Regions from separate parts of the Homo sapiens genome. Here regions 2 and 3 are each linked to region 1. The links come from fine-mapping of genetic effects on gene expression. A gene starts in region 1. Each other region holds a variant in brackets. All regions are shown on one strand. Distances are between the middles of the regions. Region 1 holds the start of TBRG4 (transforming growth factor beta regulator 4). Region 2 overlaps CCM2 (CCM2 scaffold protein). Region 3 overlaps CCM2 (CCM2 scaffold protein).

Evidence for each region. PIP is the estimated chance that this variant, and not a neighbour inherited with it, causes the effect.
Region 2: its variant is fine-mapped to the expression of TBRG4 in monocytes (Fairfax 2014, PIP 0.92).
Region 3: its variant is fine-mapped to the expression of TBRG4 in whole blood (INTERVAL, PIP 0.97).

The regions. Positions count from the first base shown.
Region 1 is chr7:45,106,590-45,114,770 of GRCh38, forward strand. TBRG4 (transforming growth factor beta regulator 4) reads right to left here and starts at 5,108. Exons shown (of 11, transcript NM_004749.4): 1 at 5,054-5,108; 2 at 2,238-2,698. The coding sequence starts at 2,648. RefSeq lists enhancers at 4,807-5,516, 4,880-5,635.
Region 2 is chr7:45,005,921-45,014,101 of GRCh38, forward strand. All of the region lies in intron 1 of CCM2 (CCM2 scaffold protein), which reads left to right. Among named protein-coding and RNA genes, the nearest start is that of CCM2, 9.8 kb to the left of the region's middle. The variant A/AG (reference allele first, on the strand shown) is at 3,398.
Region 3 is chr7:45,019,679-45,027,859 of GRCh38, forward strand. All of the region lies in intron 1 of CCM2 (CCM2 scaffold protein), which reads left to right. Among named protein-coding and RNA genes, the nearest start is that of CCM2, 24 kb to the left of the region's middle. RefSeq lists a silencer at 7,419-7,488 and an enhancer at 7,879-7,928. The variant C/T (reference allele first, on the strand shown) is at 4,221.

The DNA.
Region 1 (8,181 bases):
ACGTGGTGAAACCCTGTGCCTATTAAAATTACAAAAATTAGCCAGGTGTGGTGGCACATGCCTGTAGTCCCACCTACTTGGGAGGCTGAGGTGGGAAGATCACTTGAACCTGGAAGGTGGAGGCTGCAGTGAGCTGAGATTGTGCCACTGCACTCCAGCCTGGGTGACAGAGTGAGACTCTGTCTCAAACAACAAAACAAAACACACTGGCTTTTCTCCAGGAAAATAATTTGTTTTTGAGTCAGAGAAGCTCCAACCCCTAAACTGTTCTCTAACAAACCAATCTCGCAGTTTCTGGCAACGTGAAAGTTTCTTAGGAATGCAACTGCTGCAATAAGCAGGAGTCCCTGCAGTGCGTTAGGCAGTGAACCACCACCTTTACCCTCCAGGGACGCGGCACCCAAGCATGCCAGACCCTCAACTGCCTGCAAAGGGAGGAGCACCCCAGGCACAAAGGTTTGCAGGAACGCTTTTGACATATGGGTAAAAAGACCCCCGGTATCACTAAGCCCTGCCCACTCCCAAATGCAGAGGCCTCCTAGGGATGACCAAGCTGCTGCTGCTACCAGCAGCACCTCTGAACAGGCTCTTACTAAATGCCAGGCATCCTTCTGTGTGCGTACCCCCATGAGACACCAACATCCTATGAGAACCATCAGTCCCACTATACAGGTAAACGAAGGTGAACTTATTTCTACATAGTTCTGGGTCCGGAACCTGCACCACAGCCCGTCCTCTCTGCTGGTGCCTGCTTTGTTTCTGAAGAGGGTAACTGCTATTCAGGTACTGTGTCCACAGGGCCCACAGTGTCAACATGGGTGGCTCTAGAGCCCTTTGGCCCTGAATCCAGCCTTGCAGAAGAGAGCAGATGGTAAAACAAGTATGGCTCTGTCCTTTCCTGGGCCAAGTCTCTCAACACTGAACCCTCAGGTTCAGTCTCTGCGCTTATGAATGAGAAGCAGAAACCACACCTTCAAGGAAGTGAGCTGCGAACAGAGAAGCTGCTGTCTGAAGGGCTGGGGAGGAGGGAGAAAGTACTGGAGTAAATTCTAATCTTACAGAAGATCTGGGTGTCTACCTTCCGGTTTCATGGACAGCAGGAAAATCTTTGAAAAGAAAGCTGTTATTACATTACAGATACTTGCCTTATAATTTTGTTACAATGTTCAGTCTTGCATCATAAGACTTTCTTAAATCACATGTGAGTAAAAAGAGTCAATAAACAGCAATTAGAATTGTAGCCAAATAACAAGGGGGCCTAACTAAGTTCATTTTATGAATTATATCCCCAGCAAGAAATAATTATGTACTGTAACCCCAGTCCACACAACACAGGCATATATATACATCCTTAACTAGAACAAAAGTTCCATGAGACATTAGTGAATCCCCTTACTATATGTGATGAATTCTGGTATTTTTTATACTACTCTACCTCATTAAGAATCAGCTGGCCACATCCCACTACACTGATTTTATAACCTGCAGTTTGAAAAGCACTCAGTTAGTGCAACTCCTTCCTTGGATAGTGCCTTTCTCTTCATTACACCTGACAACTGGAAACATGGTTTCAGTGCCCCAGCACTTCCCTTCCAAAGCAGACCAGGGATTTAGGGCCAGTTCAGCCACAGCAGGAGTCTGTACTCCTTTTTTTGTACATGGAGCCCAGGGGAAGACTCTCTAAGAAGGGAGTCCCTCACAGTGAGCAGGAACTGGCTTCTGTAGTCTGAGTTCTGCCCTGCTCAGTGCCACACAAATGGGTCTTGTTGCTTCTCTCCATGGTCATCCTTGGAGGGTCTGAACATGGCTAGATCATGCCCACGTCTGTCTCAAGTTTCAAGGACCTTCCATCAGTCATGCTGCATCTCCTTTGGCTTCAAAAACAGTGCCTTGCCATCAGCCAGACACTGGCAGAGAGCAATACAAGTCAAGACTATATGGTGAGGGGGAAAGCACCCAAAGAACTGAGAAGAACCAGGCTCACTTCCCATGCTTCTATCACTATGCGTCTTGGCTGTCTGTAAGACGAGCATAGCAATATTTACCTAACAGGCCTCTTGTAAGGATAAACAAAGAGAAAGCACGATAAAGCACTTTGAAATTTATAAAAAAATAAAAAATATCACAAGAGATGCAAGGCCCCTGTCTATGCTTGGTAAGCACTGGCTGCTGTGGACCCCAGCATTTCTGGCTGTTTTCCTCTTGTCTATGCTCTCAGACCACACTCCGGCACCCACCTGACTGTTGAGCAGACAGAGAAGTTGATGAAAGTGGGCATCCTGTATGAGCAAGCCTTTATCTTCTGGCTTCTCAGACAGCAAGTGAGAGAGCCGGATAAGTACCATTGCTGCTTGATTGCTGTCCAAGTCGTGACTGCCACCAAGTAGCTCCAGGAGCTCCTCTGGCCTTGTGGCCTTCTTGATGAGGTGGTCCACCTGCTTCTCTATGTAGGGAGTAGATGCTCGTTCCTTCTCCACCGGCTCCATCAAGGAACCTGGGAGGTGGGAAATGGGTGAGGTGGCTGAGGAAGTCAGAGTCTTATGGGCTACCCAGGCAAGTCTCAGTCGGCCAACTGGAGCCATGGCAGGGGCCTGACGAGCAGCTTCTCTCAGGAGGCACGTGCATCGCTTTACCAGGTGAGCTGCCATGATGTCCTGGGTGGCAGAGAGACAAGACTCCTAGCAAGTGATTCCAAACCCTGAAGAGAAAAAGGAGAGAGAAGGGGCTACTACAGGGGCAGTTCCTGACTCACAAACTTGAGAAATGAAATAGTCAAAGCCACTCTATCTGTAAAATCAGACTAAGTCTTTCTTGACAATCCATAGGTATGTGATAGTATTTTCTAAAGCAAAAGTCTCACAGGATTTTTGTTTCAGTACAGAATGCCATCAAATATCAAAACTCAGGAACATTACAGCCTGGGTGGGAGGGTTTCCATCCTGCTTGTAATTTGAAATCACCTAGGATGTGGTTCAATAATTCAGATTCCCAGGTCCTGCCCAAGGCCTCCTAAATGATGGCATCTCTGCAGACACGACCTAGACAGCATTAATTTTTTTTTATTTTTTTATTTCAAGGGTAACCAGGATTAAAAATTACGGGCTTGGCCAGGCGTGGTGGCTCACGCCTGTAATCCCAGCACTTTGGGAGGCCTAGGCGGGTGGATCACTTGAGGTCAGGAGTTTGAGACCAGCCTGGCCAACATGGTGAAACCCCATCTTTACTAAAAATATAAAAATTAGCTGGGCATCATGGTGCACGCCTGTAATCCCAGCTACTTGGGAGGCTAAGGCACAAGAATTGCTTGAACCTGAGAGGCGGAGATTGCAGTGAGCTGAGATTGCACCACTGGACTCCAGCCTGGGTGAGAGACTCCATCTCAAAAAAAAAAAAAAAAAAAAATTCACATTCCCAAAGCCTCTGTGGATATATTTTAACACTGTAGACATAGGTGTGAGCCTCTCGAAACCAAGGTAGATTACATCACTAGCCTACTAAAACCCCCCCACCAAATTTCTAACAGCAAAAATTCTGAACCAATAATAAGAAGCACTTCATAACATGGCCCAGAATGATTTTCTCAGTCTTAGCTTTTTCTGCCTCCCAGCAACACAAGGCCCCATTTTAAACAGGCCTTGCACTTCCACTTCACCTTACAGGGCTTGTTATCTGGGTCTCCTCCTCCCCCTATAAGACCCTTTAAAATACATCTCATCCTTCCAAGGCCAAACTCAATGTTGCCATCTCCAGCAATGTGTTACATATAGCCTTGATGTTGCTTTTAACAATTCTATCGGCCAGGCGCAGTGGCTCACGCCTGTAATCCCAGTACTTTGGGAGGCTGAGGCGGGCAGATCACGAGGTCAGGAGATCGAGACCATCCTGGCTAACACGGTGAAACACCGTCTCTACTAAAAATACAAAAAAATTAGCCGGGCGTGGTGGCGGGCACCTGTAGTCCCAGCTACTAGGGAGGGTGAGGCAGAGCTTGAAGTGAGCCGAGATCGCGCCACTGCACTCCAGCCTGGGTGGCAGAGCGAGACTCTGTCACAAAAAAAAAAAAAAAGAAAAAAAATTCTATCAGCTAGTCTAGCTCCCTACGGTGATTACATGATCCAGGGAAGACATGCGACAAGGGCAAGATAAAACGTTCACCTAGGCCTCATTTCTGCCAAAGCAGAATGTACGTTTGATCTTTCTCCACTTCCTGGAACTTGGTATATGGCCAGCACATTTTCTTTTTATATGAGGGGATTAAAGCAGCTGTAAAAAGCTTAGTCTAACTCCACTTAAAGAAAAAAAAAAAGAGAGAGAGATCAGAGAGTCGGAGTATTTGCCCAAACGCAACATCTACCACTTCCTGAGCCTAAGCACAGTGTAGAAATCTTTCCGACTTATTTTTTTGAGACGGAGTCTCGCTCTGTCGCCCAGACTGGAGTGCAATGCTGCGATCTCGAGTCACTGCAACCTCAGCCTCCCGGATTCAAGCGATTCTCCTGCCTCAGCCTCCCAAATAGCTGGGACTACAGGCCCGCGCCACCACACCTGGCTAATTTTTGTATTTTTAGTAGAGACAGGGTTTCACCATGACCTCAAGTGATCCACCCGTCTCGGCCTCCCAAAGTGCTGGGATTACCGGAGTGAGCCACCGCGCCCGGCCGCCTTTCCAATTTTTTAAGAGCCCTAAGAGCAGTTTAGCCGAGTAAACGGAAGCCCAGGAGCCAGACTTGAGTTTAGGCAAACAGCAATCCAAAACTTTAGTTCTAAAATGCAGAGAGAAAACAACTTGCACTAAGTCACGAAAACTGGCTCGCTGGGGTCATGGACGGTCAACAGGGGCGGCGTCTTCCAGGCCTGGCCGCGCGGGCTAGAGAGGAAGCGTGCGCACTGGCAAGCCAGCACGGAACGAGCAGACGGCCAGGCCCACGGCATCCCACCGCGTCCCAGCCTGCTCCCCAGTTCCACCGCATCCCAGGACCTTCCCAGCCACGCCTGTGTTGTGCACTCGAAACCCACGATCAGCCGCCCCTTCTCCCCGTGCCACAAGACCTACGCAGCGAGCACCACCGCTGACCTCCATCCGCCGCCCTAACTGTCCCCGGAACCATGAGGTGCGCGGCGCGCTTCCCTACGTCACTCGGAGCGCCGGCGGAAACGAGACGAGCCTCGCCCCGCACGTCCGGAAGCCACGCCTCCAGCTTCCGGCCACACCTTTCGGCGGGTGACATCTTTGCTGAGGGCTCAAGCGGAGCGATAGGTCATGGGAAACTTAGAAAAGATAAAGAACCTAGGAAGAAAGGCTTCGGTTGCCCCCCGACCAGTACGCCATCCTCATACGGAGTGCGGGAGACGACCCTTTGTTGTCGGTGCTGTCACCCTATCCCTCCCTGCTTGCGTAGGCGTAGGAGAGTTCCTAGGGCGGTGGAAGACTGGGCTGGTGGAGTGGGATAGGCGACGTTGAGGCCTGTGGGGGCTGGGAGGACGAGTGAGTGGAGACTGGGGAACTCCAGAGCGCCCACTTGCAGCTGGATTTTTATGTGCAATTTTCCTGATTTTTAAATAGTGGTGTTTAATTACAAAGTAAAGTGCAGGATAGCCCAAACGAAATGTATCTGAGGTCTATATATGGACTTGATTAATTTTTACTTCCTGCACAGCCTTTTATTTTCTGTGGAGTTAATAATTACTTGGCTACGCACGGTGGCTCACGCCTGTAATCCCAGGCCTCGGTGGGCGGATCACTTGAGTTCAGGAGTTCGAGACCAGCTTGGCCAACATGGCGAAACCCCGTCTCTACTAAAAATACAAAAAAATTAGCCGGGCGTGGTAGGGCGCACCTGTAGTCCCAGCTACTAGGGAGGCTGAGGCATGAGAATCGCTTGAATCCGGGAGGTGGAGGTTGCAGTGAGCAGCGATCTTGCCACTGCACTCAGCCTGGTTGACAGAGCAAGACTCTGTCGCAAAAAACAAAACAAAAAACATAAAAATAAATAATTACGTTTGTTTGTGTTTGTAAACTAAAAATAAAATTGTAAGCCCCCCAAGCACTGAACGGACCTCCTCTTAGCCAAGGAGACCCCAGAGAAACCTTAAAAACTGAGTTCCCAGCCATTCTGGAAAGGGAGGTTGAACACCCCTTGTTAAAGTAGAGATCATAAGACTAACAGACTTTGTGGTAGTAAGATACCAAATTATAAACAAGACCTAAGGCCGTGCAAGGCAAGGGTTAAGTCAAGCTTGCAGACCATCAATCTTGCTGAAGAGGTCTTTTTTGACCCAGTGTATTGTGGCTGATTCTGGCATACTATCTTAAACATTCTTTTCTGCTGACTCCAAATTTTACACAGAGCCTCACTCTTTTAACCAGTTGCAAATTAAAAAATCTCTTGGTCAAGCTGGCTGAGGTGGGAGGATCACTTGAGGCCAAGAGTTCAAGACTAGCCTGGGCAACATAGGGAGACCCTATCTACCCCTACCAAGAGATCTATCTATCTATCTATCAATCAATCATATATCGTGTATATATCTATGTATTTGAGTCCACATATAACTTGTAAACCCCCCACATCAAGACATCCTGTCTTTTGGAGCCAAACCAGTGTATACCTTCCACACATTGATTTATGTCTTTGCCTGTAACCCCTGGCTCCCTGAAATGTATAAAACCAAACTATAATCTGACTGCCTCGGGAACACTTAAGGCTTTTTGGGTTTGTATTTTCCTGGGGCTGTGGTCACTCATTGGCCCTGAATAAACCTCTTTAAGTAATTTACAGAGTTTGATTTTTCTGTTAACAGTTAATTAAGATTCCATGTATTTATCACAAATTCTACTCCAAATCCTTCACAAGTTGTCTGTCAAAAGACAATATTACAACAGATTTATAGATCTGTTAAAAGAAAAGCTTTAGACAAACTAATGGAGTTTTGTTGAGGAAAGAACCTTGAAAACATGCTAAGGGAAAGAAGTTAGACACATGAGGCCACATATTGTATAGTTCCATTTATATTTGCAATGTCCAGAGTAGGTGAATTGATAGAGTCACCTATGTGATGTTGAGGTGGGGAGAATAGGGAGTGACTTCTGATGGGTTTGAGGTTTCTTTTTGAGATGGTAAAAGTGTCCTGGAATTGGATAATAGGGATGGTTGCACAACACTGAGTATACTAAAAGCCACCTGTGACTTAAGAAATATATATGTGGTCTCTGCATAGAGCTTCTAAAACCCTTGTAACTTTTTTCTTTAGGTTTTCATTAAGGCATTTTATAAAGATAATATCATTTGTATTTATAAAATGTTTGCTACATATACATAATATATATAGTGTATATATAAATTTAAATATGCTCAAGTTACAAAGCAGAATTATGAAAAGAAACCCGTGAACCCATTACTCCACTTAAGAAATAGAATATTACCAATATTGTTGCAATTTTCTGAGAGTTTCCTCTTCTTTCTTATCCCTCCACCCCAGCTAATTGCTATCCTGATGTTTTTCATTTGTGTATGTGTATTTTAATTTAATTTAAAGTTCCAGGATACATGTGCAGGACGTGCAGGTTTGTTATATAGGTAAACGTGTGCCGTGGTGGTTTGCTGCACCTATCAACTCATCACCTAGGTATTAAGCCCTGCATGCATTGGCTACTTATCCTGGTGCTCTCCCTTCCCCCTGTCCCATGGACAGACCCCAGTGTGTGTTGTACCCCTCCCTGTGTCCATGTGTTCTCATTGTTCAGCTCCCACCTATAAGTGAGAACATGCAGTGTTTGGTTTTCTGTTCCTGTGTTAGTTTGCCAAGGATAATGGCTTTCAGCGCCATCTGTGTCCCTGCAAAGGACATGATCTCATTCCTTTTTATGGTTGCATAGTAGTCCATGGTGTATATGTACCACATTTTCTTTATCCAGGCTATCATTGATGGGCATTTGTAAAACACTTGTAACTTCTTGAATGATAGTGACATCTTTTGTTATTCATCATAAGCCCCTTTTAACCATACCTGAGTTTATGCCACTAATGAAGTGGCTTTTGGAAGATGGGAGCTGGTTATCAGAGAAACCAACCATGTGATTAGAGGGCTGAAACTTTTAGCCCCACCTCTCAACCTCCAGAGAGAGGAGAGAGGCTGGAGATTGATTTGATTACAGTTTATCTAAAAGAAGAAACGGAGGCAAAA
Region 2 (8,181 bases), 100 kb before region 1:
TTGGTTCTGTATGCACTTGAAGCCACTGGAGGTGTTCCACATCATGCATTCACTTGTCCATTAAACTATTGTTTATTAGCACCAATGGTGTCAGACACAGATGCTGGAGACTGAAATGTGTACGGTGAGCCTGTGGCTGCAGAGCAGGAAGTGGAGCCCGGGGATGGATGGTGGGAGCAGGCTTTGGTAAGAGTGATCAGGAACACCTTTATGAAAACTTCAAAAGCAAATGTAAAGAAAAAAAATCATGTAACGAAGTCCCCTGTGCCCATGTGTGGGCAGTCAGTTTCATGTGCACCTTCTCCTCATTCCTGCTTCCTGCCTGTGTGGGCCGAATAGTGTCCCCTCAGAGTCATGTGCTGAAGCCCCTACTTCCAGGACCTCAGGATGTGACTGTATTTGAAGATGGAGTCTTTTTTTTTTTATTTGTTTTTATTTTAGACGGAGTCTTGTTGCTCTGTCACCCAGGCTGGAGTGCAGTGGTGCAATCTTGGCTCGCTGCAAGCTCCGCCTCCCAGGTTCCCGCCATTCTCCTGCCTCGGCCTCCTGAGTAGCTAGGACTACAGGTGCCCGCCACCACACCTGGCTAATTTTTTTGTATTTTTGGTAGAGATGGGGTTTCACCGTATTAGCCAGGATGGTCTCAATCTCCTGACTCCGTGATCCACCCACCTCGGCCTCCCAAAGTGCTGGGATTATAGGCTTGAGCCACCATGCCTGGCCTGAAGATGGAGTCTTTAAGGAGGTGATTGAGGTAAAATGAGGTAATTGTGTGGGCCCTAATCCAATCTGATGGATGTCCTTATAGGAAGTTATTAGGACACAGAGAGGAATGATCATTGGAGGACTCATGGAGAAGGCAGCCATCTGCAAGCCAAGGAGAGACCTCAGGAGAAACCACCCTGCTAAATTTACCTTGATCTTGGACTTTCAGCATCTAGACTCTAAGAGAATAAGTTTCTATTATTGAAGCCACTCAAGTCTATAATACTTAGTCCTGGCAGCCCAAGAAGGCTAATGCACCAGGTGATTTTGAAGCAAACCCTAGAGTTCAGTTTGTAGATAGAAGTGCAGTAGTAACTCATCAAGACAGAAGAGTAACAAGCCTTATGTTGCTGGTCATTCTGGCCTCATCTGCTGGCTGCCTTAGGGTCTCTGGGGTGAGTTCTGAGGACCAAGTCTACACTGTCAACATGGCCACGGACGAGCTGCTCAGAGTGACAGGACAACCCTCACTGTGCTGTATGTAAACCATAAATCACAGCACACTCTTTGTGGTTGGGAGAACATGTATGGTGTTTTGGGAGCTGGCACAGTCAGGGATGTCATTCATTTCATCTGGGACAGGCTTTGTGCTCTGGGATCTGTGGCGGGAGCAGTGAGCCCAGCCATGTCCTCTGCATGCATCGCTGTGTCCTTGTGAACAGTGGATCTTTGTTAGCGCGCTTCGCACTCCTTGGCTTTTTTATCTTTCAATCAAGAACAGCAACTGCTCTTCAAATGATTCTACAGGTATGAGGGAGTTTACATTTGGATTTGTCAATGGAACCATTAGGATTTTTTGTTTGTTTGTTTTGTAAAAATAAGAACTTTTTTCCTTAGCCTTGTGTCTGTGCCAAAAATGTGACCTTTTTTTTTCTCCCAAGTGTGCCCAAACAGTAACAATTTTTTGCTTGGATTATGTTAAGAATTAGGGCATTTGACCATAGGCATTAGATGTATGTGCAATGAAAGTGATCCCCTTTAATAAGCATAATAGGAACATGGAATTTGGGCTTTTGTTTGCAGCTTAGGATGATGGTGTGTCTTGTAACCCAAGGAGGTTTTTCACTTTTCTGAAAGTGAGAAGACTGGTCAGCCTAAACCCGTGGTGTCACTGTTCTTAAGGGAAACCTAGTTGAGGAGTGGGAGATAACCATTTCACATGTTGTTTTTGTACCTTGGAGAAAAAAAAGAGAGAAGCCTTTATTTAAATCTTTATGTCTATTCTATAGTTTAAAATTCCATACAGGTTTTTTTCAAAAAATCAAATTTGCTTCCTGTGTGTTGTCACCATGAGCTCTCTGGTCAGGTGTGGAAACTGAAATGTTTCCCTTGTTGGTTTATGTGGTGGGGTACATTTTTTTTTTTTTTTTTTTTTGAGGTGGAGTCTTGCTCTGCTGCCCAGGCTGGAGTGCAGTTGCATGACCTCAGCTCACTGCAGGCTCCGCCTCCTGGGTTCAAGCAATTCTGCCTCAGCCTCCCAAGTAGCTGGGACTATAGGTGCGTGTTCCCATGCCCGGCTAATTTTTTTATTTTTGGTAGAGATGGGGTTTCCCCATGTTGGCAAGAATGGTCTTGATCTCTTGACCTCATGATCCACCCGCCTCGTCCTCCCGAAGTCCTGACCAATGTGTGCCTCTGTGTGCCACCGTGCCTGGCCAAGGGTACATGTTCTTTTTTTTTTTTTTTTTTTTTTTTTTTGAGACAGTTTTGCTCTTGCCCAGGCTGGAGTGCAGTGGCGCGATCTCGGCTCACCACAACCTCTACCTCCCAGGTTCAAGCGATTCTCCTGCCTCAGCCTTCCCAAGTAGCTGGGATTACAGGCATGCGCCACCAAGTCCGGCTAATTTTGTATTTTTAGTAGAGACGGGGTTTCTCCATGTGGGTCAGACTGGTCTCAAACTCCCAACCTCAGGTGATCCACCTACCTCGGCCTCCCAAAGTACTGGGATTACAGGCGTGAGCCACCGCACCCGGCCAAGGGTACATGTTCTTAATGAGATGCCTTGGTCAGGTCTAAGTGTCAGTTATGGTGCATGTTGATTTTCTGTCAGATGTCTGAAAATGCCCTAGATATGATTATGTCTAGCTAATTTATTACTGCCATTAGATACATCACCTTTACATAGCTTTTACTTTTCATGCTACTGGGTATAGACAATAACCATAGCCCACCTGCCTGTGCACTTCTAATATCAGGCTGAGTTCAAGTTCCTTTCTAAGGCTCCCCCTCTCACTTAGTATTGTCCGTCTTTCTTGAAAGAGGTATGTGCAGCCTCCGTGTTTGCTTTTTCCAGCACATTCTTCCACCCTCAGCATTTTATGATGAAAATTTTTGGGACAGGCACGGTGCTCACGCCTCTAATCCCAGCACTTTAGAAGGCCAAGGCAGGCAGATCACCTGAGATCAGAAGTTCAAGACCAGCCTGGCCAACATGGCGAAATGCTATCTCTACAAAAATACAAAAATAAGCAGGGCATGGTGGTGTGTGCCTGTAATCCCAGCTACTCCAGAGGCTGAGGCAGGAGAATCGCTTGAACCCGGGAGGCAGAGGTTGCTGTGAGCCAAGATTGCGCCATTGCACTCCAGCCTGGGCGACAGAGGGAGCCTCTGTCTCAAAAAAAAAAAAAAAAA[A/AG]AAAATTTTTGAGTACACCAAAGTTGAAAGAATTTTGCAGTGAATACTTGCACCTAGATTCTGCCACTAACGTTGGCTATACTTGTTTTTTTTTTTTTTTTTTTTGAGACGGAGTCTCACTCTGTCACCTAGGATGGAGTGCAATGGCGTGATTTCGGCTCATTGCAACCTCCGCCTCCTTTGTTCAAGCGATTCTCCTGCCTCAGCCTCCCCAGCAGCTGGGATTACAGGCATGTGCCATCACGCCTGGCTAAGTTTTTGTATTTAGTAGAGATAGGGTTTCACCATGTTGGTGGGGCTGGTCTAGAACTCCTGACCTCAGATGATCCGCCCACCTCGGCCTCCCAAAGTGCTGGGATTACACTCATGAGCCACCCTGCCTGGCCTGGCTATACTTGTTTTATCCCATATCTAGCATTTGTTTATCACTGTACCTGCCCATCAACTCATTTTATTTTTCTGATGCATTCCTCAATAAATTGCAGACATTGTTTCACTTTGATCTAAATACATTAGCATGCATGTCATTAACTAGGGTTCAATATTTGCTTACAGTTTTCTTTTGATGTAAAATTATGTAACAATGAAATACACACTTTTTTTTTTTTTTTAAACAGGGTCTCACTCTGTCACAGAGGCTGGAGTGCCGTGGTGCAATCATGGCACACTGCAGCCTTGACTTCCCAGACTCAAGTGATCCTCCCGCCCCAGTCTCCTCAGTAGCTAGGACTAAATGGGTTTGTCACCATGCCCAGCTAATTTTTTTTATTTTTTGTAGAGACGAGGTCTCACTGTGTTGCCCAGGCTGGTCTTGAATTCCTGGGCTTAAGCAATCCTTCTGTCTCGGCCTGCCAAAGTGTTGGTATTACAGGCGTGAGCCACTGCTCCTGGCCAAATAATACACATCTTCAGTGAATATTAGCTAAATTTTGACAAATGCATACTCCTACGTAACTGAAACCCCTACTAAGAAATAAAATATTACCTACCATCACTGAGAAAATTCCCTTATGCCCCTTAGAAAGTCCTTCCCCCAAGGTAGTACTGTTCTGATTTTTTTCCACCATAGGTTAATTTTGTTCATTCTAGAACTTCATACAGATGGATTCATACAGTATACATTGTGTTGTGCAGGGATCACTGTACTCAGCATAATGTTTTTGAGATTTATCCATATATTGCTGCATGTTTCAGTTGCTGAGTAATATTTTGTTGTATGTTTATGCTGTGATTTGTTTATTCATTTGTTGGAGATTTAGTTTCTTTCTAGTTTGTGTATATATATATATATTTTTTTGAGATGGAGTTTTGCTCTTGTCGCACAGACTGGAATGCAATGGTGTGATCTCAGCTCACTGTAACCTCTGCCTCCTGGGTTCAAGTGATTCTCCTGCCTCAGCCTCCTGAGTAGGTGGGATTATAGGTGCCCGCCACGATGCCTGGCTAATTTTTGTATTTTTAGTAGAGATGGGGTTTCACCATGTTGGCCAGGCTGGTCTCGAACCCCTGACCTCAGGTGATACACTTGCCACGGCCTCCCAGTCTACTTTGTATTTTGAAAAAGCTGCTGTGAACATTTGTGAATGAGTCATTATGTGAACATGTTTTCATTTATTTTGGGTAAATACCTAATAATGGAATTGCTGAATTTTATGGGAACTATATGTTTAACTTTATAAGACACTGCCAAACTTTCTGCTAAATTTTTGTCTCCTAATTCTTTGTTTTTTTCTCTTTCCAGAGACAGGGTCTCATTCTGTAACCCAGGCTGGAGTGTAGTGGTGCAATCAGAGCTCAGTATAACCTCAAACTCCTGCAGTTCTCATGCCTCAACCTCCCAAGTAGTTAGGACGATAGGTGTGTGCCACTATGCCCAGCTAAATTTTTTTTTTTTTTGAGACGGAGTCTCACTCTTGTTGCCCAGGTTGGAGTGCAATGGTGCGATCTCAGCTCACTGCAGCCTCTGCCTCCCAAGTTCTAGTTATTCTCATGCCTCAGCCTCCCTGGTAGCTGGGATTACAGGTGCCCGCCACCACACCCGGCTAATTTTTGTATTTTTAGTAGAGATGGGGTTTCACCATGTTGGCCGGGCTCCTCTCGAACTCCTGACCTCAGGTGATCCAGCTGCCTTGGCCTCCCAAAGTGCTGGGATTATAGGTGTGAGCCACTGTACCCAGCTGGGCTAATTTTTAAAAATTTTTATTTTTATGTTTTATTTTTTAATGGTTGCTTTATTTATTTATTTATTTACTGAGATGGAGTCTCACTCTGTTGCCCAGGCTGGGGTGCAGTGGCGTGATCTTGGCTCACTGCAACCTCTGCCTCCTGGTTTCAATCAATTCTCCTACCTCAGCCTCCCAAGTAGCTGAGATTACTGGTGCCCACCACTATGCCTGGCTAATTTTTGTATTTTTAGTAGAGGTGAGGTTTCAATATGTTGGCCAGGATGATCTCAAATTCTTGATCTCAAGTGATCTGCCTGCCTTGGCCTCTCTAAAAGTGCTGAGATTATAGGTGTAAGCCATCGTGCCCTGCCCTGGCTAACTTTTTAAAAAGTTTTTGTAGAGTATCAGTATTTTAGTATGTTGTCCAGGGTGGTCTTGGACACCTGGCCTAAAGCCACCTTGGCCTCCCAAAGTGCTGGGATTACAGGCATGAGCCACTGCATCCAGCTAATCCTGTCAGTTATTGAGAGAGAGGGTGTTAAGTTCTCTAGTTATTATTTTGGATTTGTTTTTCCCTTTAGTTAGTTTTGGCTTCATGTATTTTGAAGCTCTGTTGTTAAGTACATACACATTTAGGATCATAATATCTTTTTTTTTTTTTTTTTTTTGAGATGGTAGTCTTTCTCTCTTACCCAGGCTGCAGTGTAGTGCTACGATCTTGGCTAACTGCAACCTCCACCTCCTGGGTTCAAGTGATTCTCCTGTCTCAGCCTTCTGAGTAGCTGGAATTACAGGCATGCACCACCATGCCCAGGTAATTTTTGTATTTTTAGTAGAGACGGGGTTTTGCCATGTTAGCCAGCCTGGTCTTGAACTCCTGACCTCAGGTGATCCACCCGCCTCGGCCTCCCAAAGTGCTGGGATTACAGGTGTGAGCCACTGCTCCCAGCCCATAATGTCTTGTTGAAATGAATCTTTTTCATTATGACATGACCATCTTTATTTCTAGTAAGACTTCTTGTCCCAATCTCTTGTCTGATATTAATATAGCTACACCACATTCTTTTTTTGCCTTAGGGACTTTAGCAACTGCCGAAGAGTCTCGCTCTGTCGCCGAGGCTGGAGAGCAGTAGTATGATCATAACTCACTGCAGCCTTGAACTCCTGGGCTCAAGTGATCTTCTGCCTCAGCCTCCCAGGTAGCTGGGAGTACAGGTGTGCGCCACCATGCCTGGCTAATTTTTTTTTTTTTAGAGATGGGGTCTCACTATGTTGCCCAGGTCGTCTCAAACTCCTGGCCTCAGTGATCCTCTTCAGCCTCCCGAGAAGCTGGGGTTACGGCCTTGAGCCAGCCACACCTGGCTACCCCACTTTCTTATGCTGCATGTTTGCATGGTGTGTGTCTTTCAACAAGTCTGGAGTTTTAAACTGCATGCTTTATAAAGAGCATTTTGTTACAGCTTGCTTTTTTATCTAGTCTGATAGTTTCTGCCTTTTAATTGTGAAGTTTACATAATTGATGTCATTATGTTTAAGTCTATCATTTTGATATTTGTTTTCTCTTTCCCTTTGTGCTTTCTTCCTTTGTTTCTCCTTTTTGATTATTTTTAACTCTGTTCTATTGCTACTGGCTTTTTTGCTGTAACTCCTCTATATATTGCTATATATATCCATGTCTTGTCACAGATTACCATCCATTAATATCATTTCTTTCTTGTACACTGTAAGAACCTATCAGCAGTATCATTCCATTTGTACTCCCTCCTGTTTTTTGCAAACTTTTTGGCATATATTTTCTTTCTATACGTGTTATAAATCTTACATTAGATTTTTTTTTTGCTTTAAACAATCGACTTTTCACCTTTTTATATTGAAATGATTTAATTATATATACGTAGTAGACTTAAAGCACACAGAGTATATACAGAGTACACAGAGCCCTCATACGCCTTCCACCCAGATCCCTCAAGTGTTAACATTTCTGAACCATTAAGAATAAGCTGTAGACATAATGCCCCATGACCCTTTAACACTTCAACTGTACCTTCCTTGGTACAAGGACACTCTAACCACACCATTCTGACATCATTAAAATCAGGAAATTGACATCCATTTGATCTTGCTACGTAATTCATGACCCCACCCAGACTTGCTGATTGTTATGATACTTTCTTTATATAGCTCTAGGATCCATAGATTTTATAGATTCAGGATCATGTGTTGCATTTGGTTTGCATGTCTCTTTAGGCTCTTTGAACTTGAAATGGTTCCTAGTCTTTTCTTGTCTCTGATGATTGATATTTTTGAAGATTACAGATCAGTTAGTAGGATGTCTCTCAGTTGGGTCTGTTTTTTCCTCATGAGTTTATGTGTTTTTGATAGGACTGCCACACAGATGATGTATTCTTCTCATTGCATCATATCAGGGAAAATAATGTCGATTTGTCCCATGTTGGTGATGTTAACTGTGGTTACTTGGTTAAGATAGTCTTGCCAAGTTTCTTCATTTTAAAGTTCTTATTTATTCTTATTTTACTTACAAGACTGTAGTTCTCTAGTATCCTTATTTATTTTGAAGCTCAAATTGTCCCAAACTCAGCCAGTGGGAAGCACTTTAAG
Region 3 (8,181 bases), 87 kb before region 1:
CTCAAGCAATTCTCCTACCTTAGCCTCCCAAGTAGGTAGGACTACAGGCATGCACTATCTGGCTAATTTTTATTTTTGTAGAAATGGGGTCTCACTATGTTGCCCAGGCTGGTTTCAAACTCCTGAACTCAAGTGATCTTCCTGCCTTGGCCGCCCAAAGTGCTGGGATTATAGGCATGAGCTCCCGCACCCAGCCATCAGCTTGCTCCTTCAACCTTCAAGCTATCGTGTCCTTTCTGGGCTTGTGGGAGTCTCACCTCCGCTTACGCAGTTCAGGGTTCAGCCAAAGATTTGAGGGGACCTTATACTCAGACTTTGGGTTCCTTTTTTAGTGGGTTCCTCCTTTCCTATATTTCCCTCTCAATTTCCAGCTTCTTTAGCAGTCTCAAATCCTCCTTTAACCTGTCAGGCCAATAAAATTGCAGCTTTTTTTTCTCTGCTCCACTCCTCTGAGACTGGGGCATACTCTCAGGAGTAAAGCAATATAAAAGTGGATCTTGCCCAGTGATGTTCCCTTCTTTCAAGGGTCATATAAATTCCAAGCTTCTTTTTTATTTCTTGTTTGTCTCCAGTGTCTTTAGAAGATTGTTTTTCACATTTTATCTAGAGTTCATAATCTCGGTCTGTGAGAAAGTTATTTTGATACAGTCTACTTCTCTCTTAAGGGAATAAGAACTTCTTTGGGTTTATTTTTTCTTGACAGTGTGTTTTGGAGCTCTTTCATTATAGATATATAGTTTCTTTATTCTTCTTTAGGGTGGAATGGCATTTTTATCTGTGGGCTACTGTATTTAAACAGCAGCCCTCCTATGGACTTTTAGGTTGTCATTTTGCTTAAAAAATAATGAAGCAATTAATTTTCTAACCTGTCATGTATGTAATGCATCTGTAGGATTAATTCCCGAAAATGCACTTGCTGGGAAACATAAGTGCATTTGTAATTTTAGTAGATGTTAACAAATTGTTTTGTATGGTAGAACCAAGGTTTATTCTTTTTTTCTTTACCCACCTCTCAAGAGAACAGTTTTTATTAGGTGAAAGTGGTATTTGCTAAAAATTTTGAGTATTTTCCAAAATGAACTTGTTAAGTTTTCTTACTAAAAAATACATTTGTATCTCAGAAGAAAGTAGCAAAATATATTATATGAAAAAAATCACACCCACTAGAAACAACTGTTATTAGTCTTTCACGTTGCTTTCCTGTTTGTGTATGCTTTTCTGTGTTAGCAGTAATAATACAGTCTTATTACCTTGGTATTTATTTCAAACACTTGCTTAGTGCCCACTGTGTAAAGAGCTTTCTGGGGAGCTGTCACTGCCTGCCTGAATCTCCCTCACTGTCTGAGGGTGGTCTTAGTGCTCATGAGGTCGAGAATATCGAGTGCTGTGTCAGAAGGGCAGAGGTCAGGTGGATTTAAAGCTGTTGCACCAAAGCCAGGTGTGGCGACATGCCTGTAGTCCCAGCCTACTCATGAGGCTGAGGTGGGAGGATGGCTTGAGCCTAGGAGTTAGAGAATGCAGTGAGCCATGATTGTGCCACTGCACTGCAGCCTGGGTAATAGAGCAAGACCCTGTCTCTAAAAAATAAAAAAAATAATAAATAGGCTGGCACGGTGGCTCACGCCTGTAATCTCAGCACTTTGGGAGGCCGAGGCGGGCGGATCACCTGAGGTCAGGAGTTCAAGACCAGCCTGGCCAACATGGTAAAACCCCCGACTCTACTAAAAATACAAAAATTAGCCAGGCATGGTGACACATGCCTGTAATCCCAGCTACTCGGGAGGCTGAGACAGGGAGAATTGCTTGAACCCGGAAGGTAGAGTTGCAGTGAGCTGAGATCGCGCCACTGCACTCCAATCTGGGCGACAGAGCGAGGCTCTTTCTCAAAAAAAAAAAATAAAATAAAATAAATAATAAATAAATAAAACTATGCATCAAGCACCATCTCCCTGTCCCCTGGGTATGCCTTTGGAAGTGCAGTTTGCAGAGTGAGTGAGATGAGGCAGGGGAGTAGGAGGAGGAGCTGAGGAGGAGAATGGGGCAGGGGAAGATGAGACAGGGAGGAGGAGGAGGGGAGGAGAGGGGAAGGGATGAGAGAGGGAAGGAAGGTGGAGTCATTGTTCCTGCTGTTGCCTTGCGTGGCTGTGACAGCTGTTGAAGCTGTCTTCTCACAGTTTTGCACACTGTGGGTTATGATTCATTAGTGGCATGTGAAATCAACCATGTAGGTAGCAACCTTTTTTTCATGTAAGAATTTAAAGGATACAAGTATAAAGTTAAAGAACTTAAGGAAAAATTTTGCTAGATTCATTTTGAATTAGAGCTGTCACGTATTTCTTAGCTATCTGCATGGAAAACACCTAGAAGCAATGACAGTCCAATAGCAGTGGAGCACACCTAGGACTTTATTGTAGTCTGAATTGTATGTCAAGTAGTGTGGTTACAGTAAGTGAGGGGATGTAGCTTTTTGCCACAAAATCTGTACTTTGGAAGGTGAATGTGAAGCAATGAGAACAAATGGAGATTATTAATCTGTGCTGTGGTTGGCGTTCAGAATTAGGCCACATTTTAGTATGTTTCATGTGGGGATCATTATTTTTTTTTGGACCAGCTTTTTTTTTTTTTTTTTTTTTTTTTTTTTGAGATGGAGTCTTGCTCTGTTGCCCAGGCTAGAGTGGAGTGCAGTGGTGCGATCTCGGTTCACTGCAAACTCCGCCTCCCGGGTTCACGCCATTCTCCTGTCTCAGCCTCCCGAGTAGCTGGGACTACAGGCGCCCACCACCGTGCCCGGCTAATTTTTTGTATTTTTAGTAGAGACGGGGTTTCACCGTGTTAGCCAGGATGGTCTCCATCTCCTGACCTCGTCATCCGCCCGCCTCGGCCTCCCAAAGTGCTGGGATTACAGGCATGAGCCACCGTGCCTGGCCTTTTCTTTAGAGTTTCTGATGAATTGCTTTTCTTTTTTCTTTCAAAAGAAACATTAAATTTTAAAAAATTTCAGTAGCTTTTGGGGTACAAGTGGTTTTTGGTTACATGGGTGAATTGTATAGTGATGAAGTCTGGCTTTTATTTTATTTTTTGAGACGGAGTCTCATTCTGTTGGCCAGGCTGGAGTGCAGTGGTGCGATCTCGGCTCACTGCAACCTCTGCCTCCCGACCTCAAGCGATTCTCCTACCTCAGCCTCTCGAGTAGCTGGGATTACAGGTGCCCACCACCACGCCTGGCTAATTTTTATATTTTTAGTAGAGACGGGGTTTCACCATGTTGACCAGGTTGGTCTCGAACTCCTGAGCTCAAGTGATCCACCAGCCTCGGCCTCCCAAAGTGCTGGGATTACAGGCATGAGCCACCTCACCCTGCAAGTCTGGGCTTTTAGTGTACCCATCACCCAAAAAGCGTACATTGTATCCAGTAGGTAATTTTTCATCTCTCACCTCCCTCCCACTTTCTCCCTTTCTAAGTCTCCAGTGTCCATTATATCACTCTGTGTGCCTTTGTGTAGCCATAGTTTAGCTCCCACTTATAAGTGAGAGAACCATGCCCGGCCCAGACTTCTTTTTTTAAATGTTCTAATAAAACTTTATTTACGGCTGGGTGCAGTGGCTCACACCTGTAATCCCAGCACTTTGGGAGGCTGAGGAGGGTGGATCACCTGAGGTCAGGAGTTCGAGACCAGCCTGGCCAACATGGCGAAGCCCCATCTCTACTAAAAATACAAAAATTAGCCGGGTGTGGTGTTGCGCGTCTGTAATCCCAGTTACTTGGAAGCCTGAGGCGGGAGAATCGCTTGAACTTGGGAGGTGGAGGTTGCAGTGAGCTGAGATCGTGCCACTGGACTCCAGCCTGGATGACAGAGTGAGACTCCGTCTCAAAAAACAAAACTAACAAAAACAACAACAAAACACAAGAAAACCCCACTTTATTTACAAAAACAGGTGGCTTGCCTGTGTGGTAGAGTTTACTCAGCCTTTTTCTAGAGAATGCCTTGTTATTGTGAATGAGATTCAGTTTTATTATGGTAGGCAGTGAGATTACTGGGAAATCTTTTTTTTTTTTTTTTTGTCGTGTGCATCTTTGTTTAGTCATTATTTTGATAGCTCTGTATCAGTTTTTTTTTTTTTTTTTTTTTTTTTTTTTTTTTTTTTTATGAGACAGAGTTTTGCTCTTGTTGCCCAGGCTGGAGTGCAATGGCACAATCTTGGCTCACTGCAACCTCTGC[C/T]TCCCAGGTTCAAGTGATCCTCCTGCCTCAGTCTCCGTAGTAGCTGGGGTTACAGACATGTGCCACCACGCCCTGCTAATTTTGTATTTTTAGTAGAGTTGGGGGTTTCTCCATGCTGGTCAGGCTGGTCTCGAATTCCCGACATCAGGTGATCCTCCTGCCTTGGCCTCCCAAAGTGCTGGGATTACAGGCATGAGCCACCGCACCCGGCCTCTGTATCAGTTTTGAATTTAGTTCTGGGTGTTTTCCTTACACCTAAAGTGTGGACTTTTTGGATTTCTACTGAGTAGCCAGTTCAGCAAAGTCTCTTCAGCTGATTATAATGTTCAGGAAAGACTCTTCAGCTGATAATAACTTCTGGCATCACCATTCAGCAGTCAGTCAAACATTAAATGATTACCTGTAGGCATTGTGGAGTTTCATCTCTGCATGTCCAGGCCAGCCCTTAGTCAAGGCCCAAGAAACATGTTTTTATCGTCAAGAACTTCTAGGCTCTTAGTTTACATAATGGAATCTTACAGATTTTCCTTTGTTTGCTTGCTGAACACTGTCATTGTCACCCTGGGATTTCTTTTCTCTGCTTCCTGGGTTGGTTCCACTGTTTCTTGGAGTCCACATCTTTTTCTCTCTTGGATGATCCTCGTTTTGCTGGGAGTAGATCCTCTAGTATGTTTTTCAAAAGGGGGTTTTTAGAGTGTAAAGATCCCAAGGCACTGCAGGTGTGAAAATAACTATTTTGCACCTTGATTGACAGTTTGGTTTTAAATTAACTTCCAGATTTAAATTAATTTCCACACAGAATTTTAAAGGGATTACCATATTCCCATTTATCAGGATACATCTGATGCTGATCTGAGTCTTACTGCTTTTACAGGTACTTTTTTTTGCATTTTCTTATTGGAAACCTAAGATTCTCTTGAAATTCTGCAGTTTTGTGAAGATGAGTCTAAATGTTGAGGGTTTGTCTCTTACATTCAGCCTACTTGTTACTGTGCTTTTTCTGTCCATAAAATTGAGTTCATCGTTGTTGTCTTCTGATATTTGTGTCCCTCTTTGATTCTGCCTGCTCTTATTCTCCTCTTAGGAAACTGTTAGACTCGATGGACCCAGCTTCTGTGGCCTTTAATTTTTCTCATGTTAAACTTTTTACCTTTTCACTTTATGTTCTAAGACAGGGTTGGCAAACTTCATGTAAAGGACCAGACAGTAAATATTTCAGGCTGTGTGGGCCAGGGGGCAAAATTGAGGCCATTAAGTAGGTACTTATATAAGAGAGAAAGCAAATTTTCGTAAATTTTTTTATTGATGAAATTCAAGGTATAATAATTGAGTACAATTTTTTGTAATATGGTTCTACTACTGAGAATGGAATTCTTTTTGGGGGCTAACATTTTGCTTAATCAGGGTTCAAAGTTGGTGATTCCCTTTATCGAATTGGTGGCAAATGTTCATCTGTAAAACATTTGCAGCTGTGGCCATCAGCAGCAGGCAGGCATTGGCCAACCCCGCAGTTCTCCTTCACATCATTCTTTGGGCTCTCCGCTATGTCCTTGTTATTATTCTACGAATTTTTTATTTTGGCAGTCATATTTGTAATTTCTAAGATATATTTCTTGTTCTCTGTTCTCTCTTTTTCTTTTTTTTTTTTTTTTGAGATGGAGTTTCACTCTTGTTGCCCAGGCTGGAGTGCAATGGCGTGATCTCACCTCACCGCAACCTCCGCCTCCTGGGTTCAAGTGATTCTCGTGCTTCAGCCTCCCGAATAGCTGGGATTAACAGGCATGCGCCATCACGCCCAGCTAATTTTGTGTTTTTGGTAGAGACGGGGTTTCTCCATATTGGTCAGTCTGGTCTCAAACTTCTAACCTCAGGTGATCTGCCCACCTCAGCCTTCCAAAACGCTGGGATTACAGGCGGGAGCCACTGCACCCGGCCGTTTTCTCTTTTTCATAGCTATCTAGTCTTATTTTATGGATGCAGTTCTTCTCAAGTGTCTCTAAGTATACTAGCTAGAATGTAGGTTCCTGTGCCTGTCTCTTCCCATTTGTTCTTTGGCTTTTCTCTCTCATGCTGACCGTGGGGATCACTGTGTTTGTGAGGGAAGGTTGGGGTTGACTAGTGTTCAGAGCATGTGGGTTTTCTTTTTAGTCATGTCTATTTCCCTGGAATCCTTCCCCTCCCTGCAGTAGCCAAAATAGAGGTGAGGCTGCTCAGCTGAGTGGCACCTCTTTCTGTATCTCCCTCCTGGTTTGCCTTTTTCCCTTTGAGCCTACCTGAAGGTCAGGGTCAGCTGGTTCTGCCCTGTATAGGCAACTTTTAGGAAGGAGCAATCTGAAATTGTGACTCTACTCTGGTTTTTAAAGACAGAAAGTGACAGTCCAGTTAATACCGGATATTGACTCAAATCTAGTTCTGATGCTGCTTTTCCAACTTTATGACAGTTTCTACATCTGTGGTATATGGAATAATAATTGAAGCACTAAATTTTATTCTGAAGCAATCAGTCTTTTTGGAATCAGGAAATATTAAACTTTATTTGTTACAGGTTAATGAAATAGAATTGTATGAAAGTACCATTTTTATAGCCAAAACACTGTTGAAAATCAGCACTTTGATTTGGTTCAACCTAATATTTAAAAAATTATATTGTAATTGTTATGTTTATTTATTGATCTGTGAATATAGTCACTCTAACCAGATTTTTTTTTTTTTTTTTTTTTTTGAGATGGAGTCTCACTCTGTTACCCAGGCTGGAGTGCAATGGTGCTATCTTTTCTTACTGGAACCTCTGCCTCCCAGGTTCAAGCGATTCTCCTGCCTCAGCCTCCCAAGTAGCTGGGATAACAGGTGCCCATCACCACGCCCGGCTAATTTTTCTACTTTCAGTAGAGACGGGGTTTCACCGTGTTGGCCAGGCTGGTGTCGAACTTCTTACCTCAGGTGATCCACCTGCCTCAGCCTTCTAAAGTGCTGGGATTACAGACATGAGCCACCGCACCCAGCCAACCAGAATATTTAATTAAGTAGCCCTCCCTATTTGCAAGCCATTCTGGAATTATCAGAGTTCTAAGAGCCTTCACCAGCAACAGATCCAACTTCTGCTTTTCTAGATTAGGAAATTTGCCTTGAAGAAGTGAGCTTGGCCAGAGGCACGCTGTTTAATTTCAAAGTGCTGCTGACTCAAACTCATGAGTCCTGGAGGCAGGTAGAGGCACTTGTAGGCTGAGGACCCGTAGAGCCCGGTGTGCCCTGCCCAAGCCCCACCTGGGAATGGAGTTATCTCTGTAAAGATCTTGCTGCCTTTGAGCAAGCACTGCAAATGGGGTAACTGGAACAGCCTTGTCGCGTGTTTCCACCCTTCGTATGAGGCAGGTACCATGGGTCTTCACCAACAGCACGGCCTGTTGTCTCCAGGAAATGGTAGCCCCTCACAGTGCTTTCTGTCTGCTTGTTTAGCTTTGGCATTTGAATGTGCAGAATGGTGGACTTTGAAATTAATGTCCTTCTGTTGACTGCAGAATTTCTGCTGGAAATGCAGGGAGGCTGCTTGTGGGGTTCGCGTGCTGTGGGAAGTAGGGAAAATGAGCTGGTTTACTTTGTGTCTTTTTGTGCATGCAGACTGTTTGGATTTTGCCAACAGTTTCTGGGTGCTGCCTGCTTTTTAAACTTTTAAAAAATTGTAAACAGCTTCAGTGGCTTTGCAGAAGGAAGCTGTGGTTTCTGGTCTTCCTGTTCAGTCATGTTTTTTTCAGAGGGAGGGCTAACATCTGGCCATATTTTTCAACAAATTCAGAAGTGAGTAGAGAATGCATAGTAGCTGTCGGCAGAGGAGGAACCAGAATCTCTCCAAAGAAATTCCTCAAACAGAATTTCACACAGGGTATTCCATGGAGAATGAGGTAGGTGCAAGTCCAGTGTGGAAAGCGCCATTTAGAATGATGATGGTGTGAGTCCCTTGTGG